Linked DNA regions of Homo sapiens. The protein of the gene in region 1 purifies or fractionates together with the protein of each later gene. This does not show direct contact. Each region holds a gene or a part of one and is shown on either strand. Other genes may lie near its edges. The genes, in order: RAD51C and HRNR.

Region 1 (3,075 bases):
ATTCTGGGATTACAGGCGTGAGCCACCGAGCCCGGCTTTATCTCATTTTTATAACAACAAAAACAGAAATAGAGATTCTGAAACTGAATTATCCACTTAGTCTTTGCAGTACCCAGGTGTACTTGAAATATCCTAGTTGGGGAAAAAAAAGAGAGAGAGAAATATCATAGTTGGAAAACTTTAGAGTATTTAATTATGAAAATAAATCTGTAAAGTACCTAAGACTTAGGTTATTTCCTTTTACTTCTAACAAAGCTATCGTAAAGTTTGTTAGGATTGACCTTTAGAGAACATTTTTATAATGCAATGTTATTTCTGTGCGTGTGTATGCAAGGGTATAAATAAGTATATATAAAATACTCTTAATATAGCCCGGGCTTTGGCACGTATCCATGAGGTTTATTCTCTTCATTCACAGTGGTTGATAAATTTCTATCTCAAGAACTTTCTTTTTTTTTGAGACGAAGTCTCACTATTTCGCCCAGGCTAGAGTGCAGTGGCACAATCTTGTCTCACTGCAACCTCCGCCTCCCAGGTTCAAGCGATTCTCCTGCCTCAGCCTCCAGAGTAGCTGGGACTAGAGGTGTGTGCCACCATGCCCAGCTAATTTTTATATTTTTGGTAGAGATAGGGGTCACCATGTTGGCCAGGCTGGTCTTGAACTCCTGACCTCATGATCTGCCCACCTCAGCCTCCCAAAGTGCTGGGATTACAGGTGTGAGCCACTGCGCCTGGCCCTAGAATAAAGTAGCTTTCTTATTAGTTACTTAAAAATATTTCTAAGATCAGTCTTCAAATGTTCTTAAAGCATATTTGTATATATATTTTTTATCTTTCAGCCTCAGGGATTTAGAGATACTGTTGTTACTTCTGCATGTTCATTGCAAACAGAAGGTTCCTTGAGCACCCGGAAACGGTCACGAGACCCAGAGGAAGAATTATAACCCAGAAACAAATCTCAAAGTGTACAAATTTATTGATGTTGTGAAATCAATGTGTACAAGTGGACTTGTTACCTTAAAGTATAAATAAACACACTATGGCATGAATGAATCCAGATCATATGAAGTGAATGGGAAAAATACCTAAATATGATTCTGTGAAAGTTTTTCTAAAGCAGTATTCTGCAATTATATTTTACCCTGTTTTCATTTTCAGTAACATTCAGTAGAGATGATTATTATATTTCACAAATGTGGAAAGCTGATCTCATGTGGCCAGTCTGAATTTACCATTCATACTGTTTTCACCCCTTTCTTTCCCAGTTGCCTATAAAATCTTAGGAAGAAACATATCATATTCTTATTGTGTTTTTTTTTTTTTTTTTTTTTTTGGAGATGGATTCTCGCTCTGTAGTCCAGGCTGGAGTGCAATGGCGCAATCTCTGCTCACTGCAACCTCCGCCTCCCAGGTTCAAGCGATTCATCTGCCTCAGCCTCCCGAGTAGCTGGGGTTACAGGCACCTGCCATCGTGCCTGGCTAATTTTTTGTATTTTTGTAGAGACAGAGTTTTACCATGTTGGCCAAGCTGGTCTTGAACTCCTGACCTCAGGTGATCTGCCTGCCCCTGCCTCCCAAAGTGCTGGGATTACAGTCGTGAGCCACTGTGCCCAGCCATGTTCTTTTTAAATGTAAATTTGATAATTCTTTAAAATTACCCGCTTTTATAATTATAAAAGAGAAGCCAGCACCATGAGTCAGCATATTATTCTGTTCAGTTTTATAGGTAAGATACAAATTTTAGGTGACCAAACTGATTTTAGTGACCTCAATCCTAAAATCTAAGCCATTTGTTTAGCTTTTAATGACATTTTATAATGTTAAAGGGAGGACTTTGGAGCTGTTATCTCATCTAGAGATTGTTTGGAACATATGTCTTCCAGAATAGGTTGATAAGCTCACAATCATTTATTGCTACGTTTTTGTTTTTGTTTTGAGACAAGGTCTCACTCCGTCACCCAGGCTGGAGTGCAGTGGCATGATCATAGCTCACTGCAGCCTCGACCTCCCGGGCTCAAGCAATCCTCTCACTTCAGCCTCCTGAGTAGCTGGGACTACAGGGAGGCACTACCATGCCCTGCTAATTTTTGGATTTTTTTGTAGAGACAAGGTCTCACTATGTTGCCCAGGCTGGTCTCAAACTCCTGGTCTCAAGCGATCCTCTTGCCTTGTCTTCCCAAAGTGCTGGGATTACAGATGTGAGCCACCACACCTGGCCTCATTTCTATATTTTGAAACACGGTATGATCCATTCTAGAATTCTAGTTGTTATGTTGACATTTTTCTTTGAATAATCTTAACTTTGCTTAAATAAATTAAAGATTTCAATTCTCGATGGTTTCAAAATCACCTAAAAATATTTTCACACTTGGCTCTTAGTACTTTTCAACTTACTCACAAAATTTACTTTGGTTCCCTGTGGGGGAAAAAATAATTAATTTTGGGACAGAATCTCGCTCTGTCACCCAGACTGCAGTGCAGTGGCACAATCTTGGCTCACCGCAACCTCTGCTTCCAGGGTTTAGGCGATTCTTGTGCCTCAGCCTCCCAAGTAGCTGGGATTACAGGCATGCACCACCGTGCCAAGCTAATAGTTTGTAATTTTAGTAGAGACAGGTTTCTCTATGTTGGCTAGGGTGGTCGCGAACTCCTGGGGCTCAAGTGACCCGCCCACCTCTGCCTCCCAAAGTGCTGGAATTAACAGGTGTGAGACTGCGCGCCCAGCCATATTTATATATTTATTTTTAAACTATTATTTTAGGTTCAGGGGTACGTGTGAAGGTTGGTTACGTAGGTAAACTCATGTCACGGGTTTATTGTACAGATTATTTCATCACCCAGGAGTTAAACTCAGTACCCAATAGTTACCTTTTCTGCTTCTCTCCTTCCTCCCACCTTCCACCCTTAGGTAGTAGACCCCAGTGTTTGTCTGTTTTGTTTTGTTTTGTTTTGTTTTTTAAATGCAAGCTTGCTCTGTCACCCAGGTTGGAGTGCAGTGGCAGGATCTTGGCTCACTGCAACTTCCACCTCCTGGGTTCAAGCGATTATCCCGCCTCAGCCTCCAGAGTAGCTGGG
Region 2 (3,820 bases), on another chromosome or scaffold:
GTTGGAGTGCAGGAGAGAATGATTCCTATTCCAGAAACGTCAGAGGAAGTCTTAAACCTGGGACTGAATCCATATCCAGAAGACTGAGTTTTCAAAGAGACTTTTCTGGCCAACATAACTCCTACTCAGGTCAGTCTTCCAGCTATGGTGAGCAAAACTCCGACTCCCATCAGTCTTCAGGCCGCGGCCAATGTGGGTCTGGGTCAGGGCAGTCTCCCAACTATGGCCAACACGGCTCTGGCTCCGGACAGTCTTCCAGCAATGACACACATGGGTCTGGCTCAGGCCAGTCTTCTGGCTTTAGTCAACACAAGTCTAGCTCAGGGCAGTCCTCTGGTTACAGTCAGCATGGATCTGGCTCAGGTCACTCCTCTGGCTACGGACAACACGGCTCTAGGTCAGGACAGTCATCTAGGGGTGAACGACACAGATCTAGCTCAGGTTCGTCTTCCAGCTATGGTCAGCATGGGTCTGGTTCCCGTCAGTCTTTGGGCCACGGCCGACAAGGGTCTGGATCTCGCCAGTCTCCTAGCCACGTCCGACATGGGTCCGGTTCGGGGCACTCCTCCAGCCACGGCCAACACGGGTCTGGCTCAAGTTACTCTTACAGCCGTGGCCATTATGAGTCTGGCTCAGGCCAGACTTCTGGCTTTGGGCAACATGAGTCTGGCTCAGGACAGTCCTCTGGCTATAGTAAGCATGGTTCTGGCTCAGGTCACTCCTCTAGCCAGGGACAACATGGATCTACGTCAGGGCAGGCATCAAGCTCTGGCCAACATGGCTCCAGCTCACGTCAGTCTTCCAGCTATGGTCAGCATGAGTCTGCCTCCCGTCACTCTTCAGGCCGCGGCCAACACAGCTCTGGATCTGGCCAGTCTCCAGGCCACGGCCAGCGTGGGTCTGGGTCAGGGCAGTCTCCCAGCTCCGGCCAACATGGGACTGGCTTTGGTCGATCTTCCAGCAGTGGCCCATATGTGTCTGGTTCAGGCTACTCTTCTGGCTTTGGTCACCACGAGTCTAGCTCAGAGCATTCCTCTGGTTACACTCAGCATGGATCTGGCTCAGGTCACTCCTCCGGCCACGGACAACACGGCTCTAGGTCAGGACAGTCATCTAGGGGTGAACGACAAGGATCTAGTGCAGGTTCATCTTCCAGCTATGGTCAGCATGGGTCTGGCTCCCGTCAATCTTTGGGACACAGCCGACATGGGTCTGGATCTGGCCAGTCTCCTAGCCCTAGCCGTGGCCGACATGAGTCTGGTTCCAGGCAGTCTTCCAGCTATGGCCCACATGGGTATGGCTCAGGGAGGTCTTCAAGCCGTGGCCCATATGAGTCTGGCTCCGGTCACTCTTCTGGCTTAGGTCACCAAGAGTCTCGCTCAGGACAGTCCTCTGGCTACGGTCAACACGGATCTAGCTCGGGTCATTCCTCTACCCATGGGCAACATGGTTCTACATCAGGACAGTCATCGAGCTGTGGCCAACATGGAGCTACCTCAGGTCAGTCTTCCAGCCACGGTCAGCATGGCTCTGGCTCAAGTCAGTCTTCTCGCTATGGCCAACAGGGCTCTGGATCTGGCCAGTCTCCTAGTCGCGGCCGACATGGGTCCGATTTTGGGCACTCTTCCAGCTACGGCCAACATGGGTCTGGCTCCGGTTGGTCTTCAAGCAATGGCCCACATGGGTCTGTCTCAGGCCAGTCTTCCGGCTTTGGTCACAAGTCTGGCTCAGGGCAGTCCTCTGGTTACAGTCAGCATGGATCTGGCTCAAGTCACTCCTCCGGCTACAGAAAACACGGCTCTAGGTCAGGACAGTCATCTAGGAGTGAACAACACGGATCTAGCTCAGGTTTGTCTTCCAGCTATGGTCAGCATGGGTCGGGCTCCCATCAATCTTCGGGCCACGGCCGACAAGGGTCTGGATCTGGCCACTCTCCTAGCCGTGTCCGACATGGGTCCAGTTCAGGGCACTCCTCCAGCCACGGCCAACACGGGTCTGGCACAAGTTGTTCTTCCAGCTGTGGCCATTATGAGTCTGGCTCAGGCCAGGCTTCTGGTTTTGGGCAACACGAGTCTGGCTCAGGACAGGGCTATAGTCAGCATGGTTCTGCCTCAGGTCACTTCTCTAGCCAGGGACGACATGGATCTACGTCAGGGCAGTCATCAAGCTCCGGCCAACATGACTCTAGCTCAGGTCAATCTTCCAGCTATGGTCAGCATGAGTCTGCCTCCCATCACGCTTCGGGCCGCGGCCGACATGGCTCTGGATCTGGCCAGTCTCCAGGCCACGGCCAGCGTGGGTCTGGGTCAGGGCAGTCTCCCAGCTATGGCCGACATGGGTCTGGCTCCGGTCGGTCTTCCAGCAGTGGCCGACATGGGTCTGGCTCAGGCCAGTCTTCTGGCTTTGGTCACAAGTCTAGCTCAGGGCAGTCCTCTGGTTACACTCAGCATGGATCTGGCTCAGGTCACTCCTCCAGCTACGAACAACACGGCTCTAGGTCAGGACAGTCATCTAGGAGCGAACAACATGGATCTAGCTCAGGTTCGTCTTCCAGCTATGGTCAGCATGGGTCTGGCTCCCGTCAGTCTTTGGGCCACGGCCAACATGGGTCTGGATCTGGCCAGTCTCCTAGCCCTAGCCGTGGCCGACATGGGTCTGGTTCCGGGCAGTCTTCCAGCTATGGCCCATATAGGTCTGGCTCAGGGTGGTCTTCAAGCCGTGGCCCATATGAGTCTGGCTCCGGTCACTCTTCTGGCTTAGGTCACCGAGAGTCTCGCTCAGGACAGTCCTCTGGCTACGGTCAACATGGATCTAGCTCAGGTCATTCCTCTACCCATGGGCAACACGGTTCTACATCAGGACAGTCATCGAGCTGTGGCCAACATGGAGCTAGCTCAGGTCAGTCTTCCAGCCACGGTCAGCATGGCTCTGGCTCAAGTCAGTCTTCTGGCTATGGCCGACAGGGCTCTGGATCTGGCCAGTCTCCAGGCCACGGCCAGCGTGGGTCTGGGTCAAGGCAGTCTCCCAGCTACGGCCGACATGGGTCTGGCTCCGGTCGGTCTTCCAGCAGTGGCCAACATGGGTCTGGCTTAGGCGAGTCTTCTGGCTTTGGTCACCACGAGTCTAGCTCAGGGCAGTCCTCTAGTTACAGTCAGCATGGGTCTGGCTCAGGTCACTCCTCTGGCTACGGACAACACGGCTCTAGATCAGGACAGTCATCTAGGGGTGAACGACACGGATCTAGCTCAGGTTCGTCTTCCCACTATGGTCAGCATGGGTCTGGCTCCCGTCAGTCTTCGGGCCACGGCCGACAAGGGTCTGGATCTGGCCATTCCCCTAGCCGCGGCCGACATGGGTCCGGTTTGGGGCACTCCTCCAGCCACGGCCAACATGGGTCTGGCTCAGGTCGTTCTTCCAGCCGTGGCCCATATGAGTCTCGCTCGGGTCACTCTTCTGTCTTTGGTCAACATGAGTCTGGCTCAGGACATTCCTCTGCTTACAGTCAGCATGGTAGTGGCTCAGGGCACTTCTGTAGCCAAGGACAGCATGGTTCTACATCAGGACAGTCATCAACCTTTGACCAGGAGGGATCTAGCACAGGCCAGTCTTCCAGCTATGGCCACCGTGGCTCTGGCTCCAGTCAGTCTTCTGGCTATGGCCGACATGGGGCTGGATCTGGCCAGTCTCCTAGTCGCGGCCGACATGGGTCCGGTTCTGGGCACTCTTCCAGCTACGGCCAACATGGGTCTGGCTCCGGTTGGTCTTCCAGCAGTGGCCGACATGGGTCTGGCTCAGGTCAGTCTTCTGGATTTGGTCACCA

What was found.
Region 2: the proteins of RAD51C (region 1) and HRNR purify together in Homo sapiens (co-immunoprecipitation; one large-scale study listed by IntAct). This does not show direct contact.

The regions. Positions count from the first base shown.
Region 1 is NC_000017.11:58,733,279-58,736,353, forward strand, and holds the end of RAD51C (DNA repair protein RAD51 homolog 3), read left to right. Parts: intron 1-839; coding exon 840-944; 3' UTR 945-2,333; downstream 2,334-3,075. UniProt on the Homo sapiens protein: Essential for the homologous recombination (HR) pathway of DNA repair. Involved in the homologous recombination repair (HRR) pathway of double-stranded DNA breaks arising during DNA replication or induced by DNA-damaging agents.
Region 2 is NC_000001.11:152,217,418-152,221,237, reverse strand, and holds part of HRNR (hornerin), read left to right. Parts: coding exon 1-3,820. UniProt on the Homo sapiens protein: Component of the epidermal cornified cell envelopes.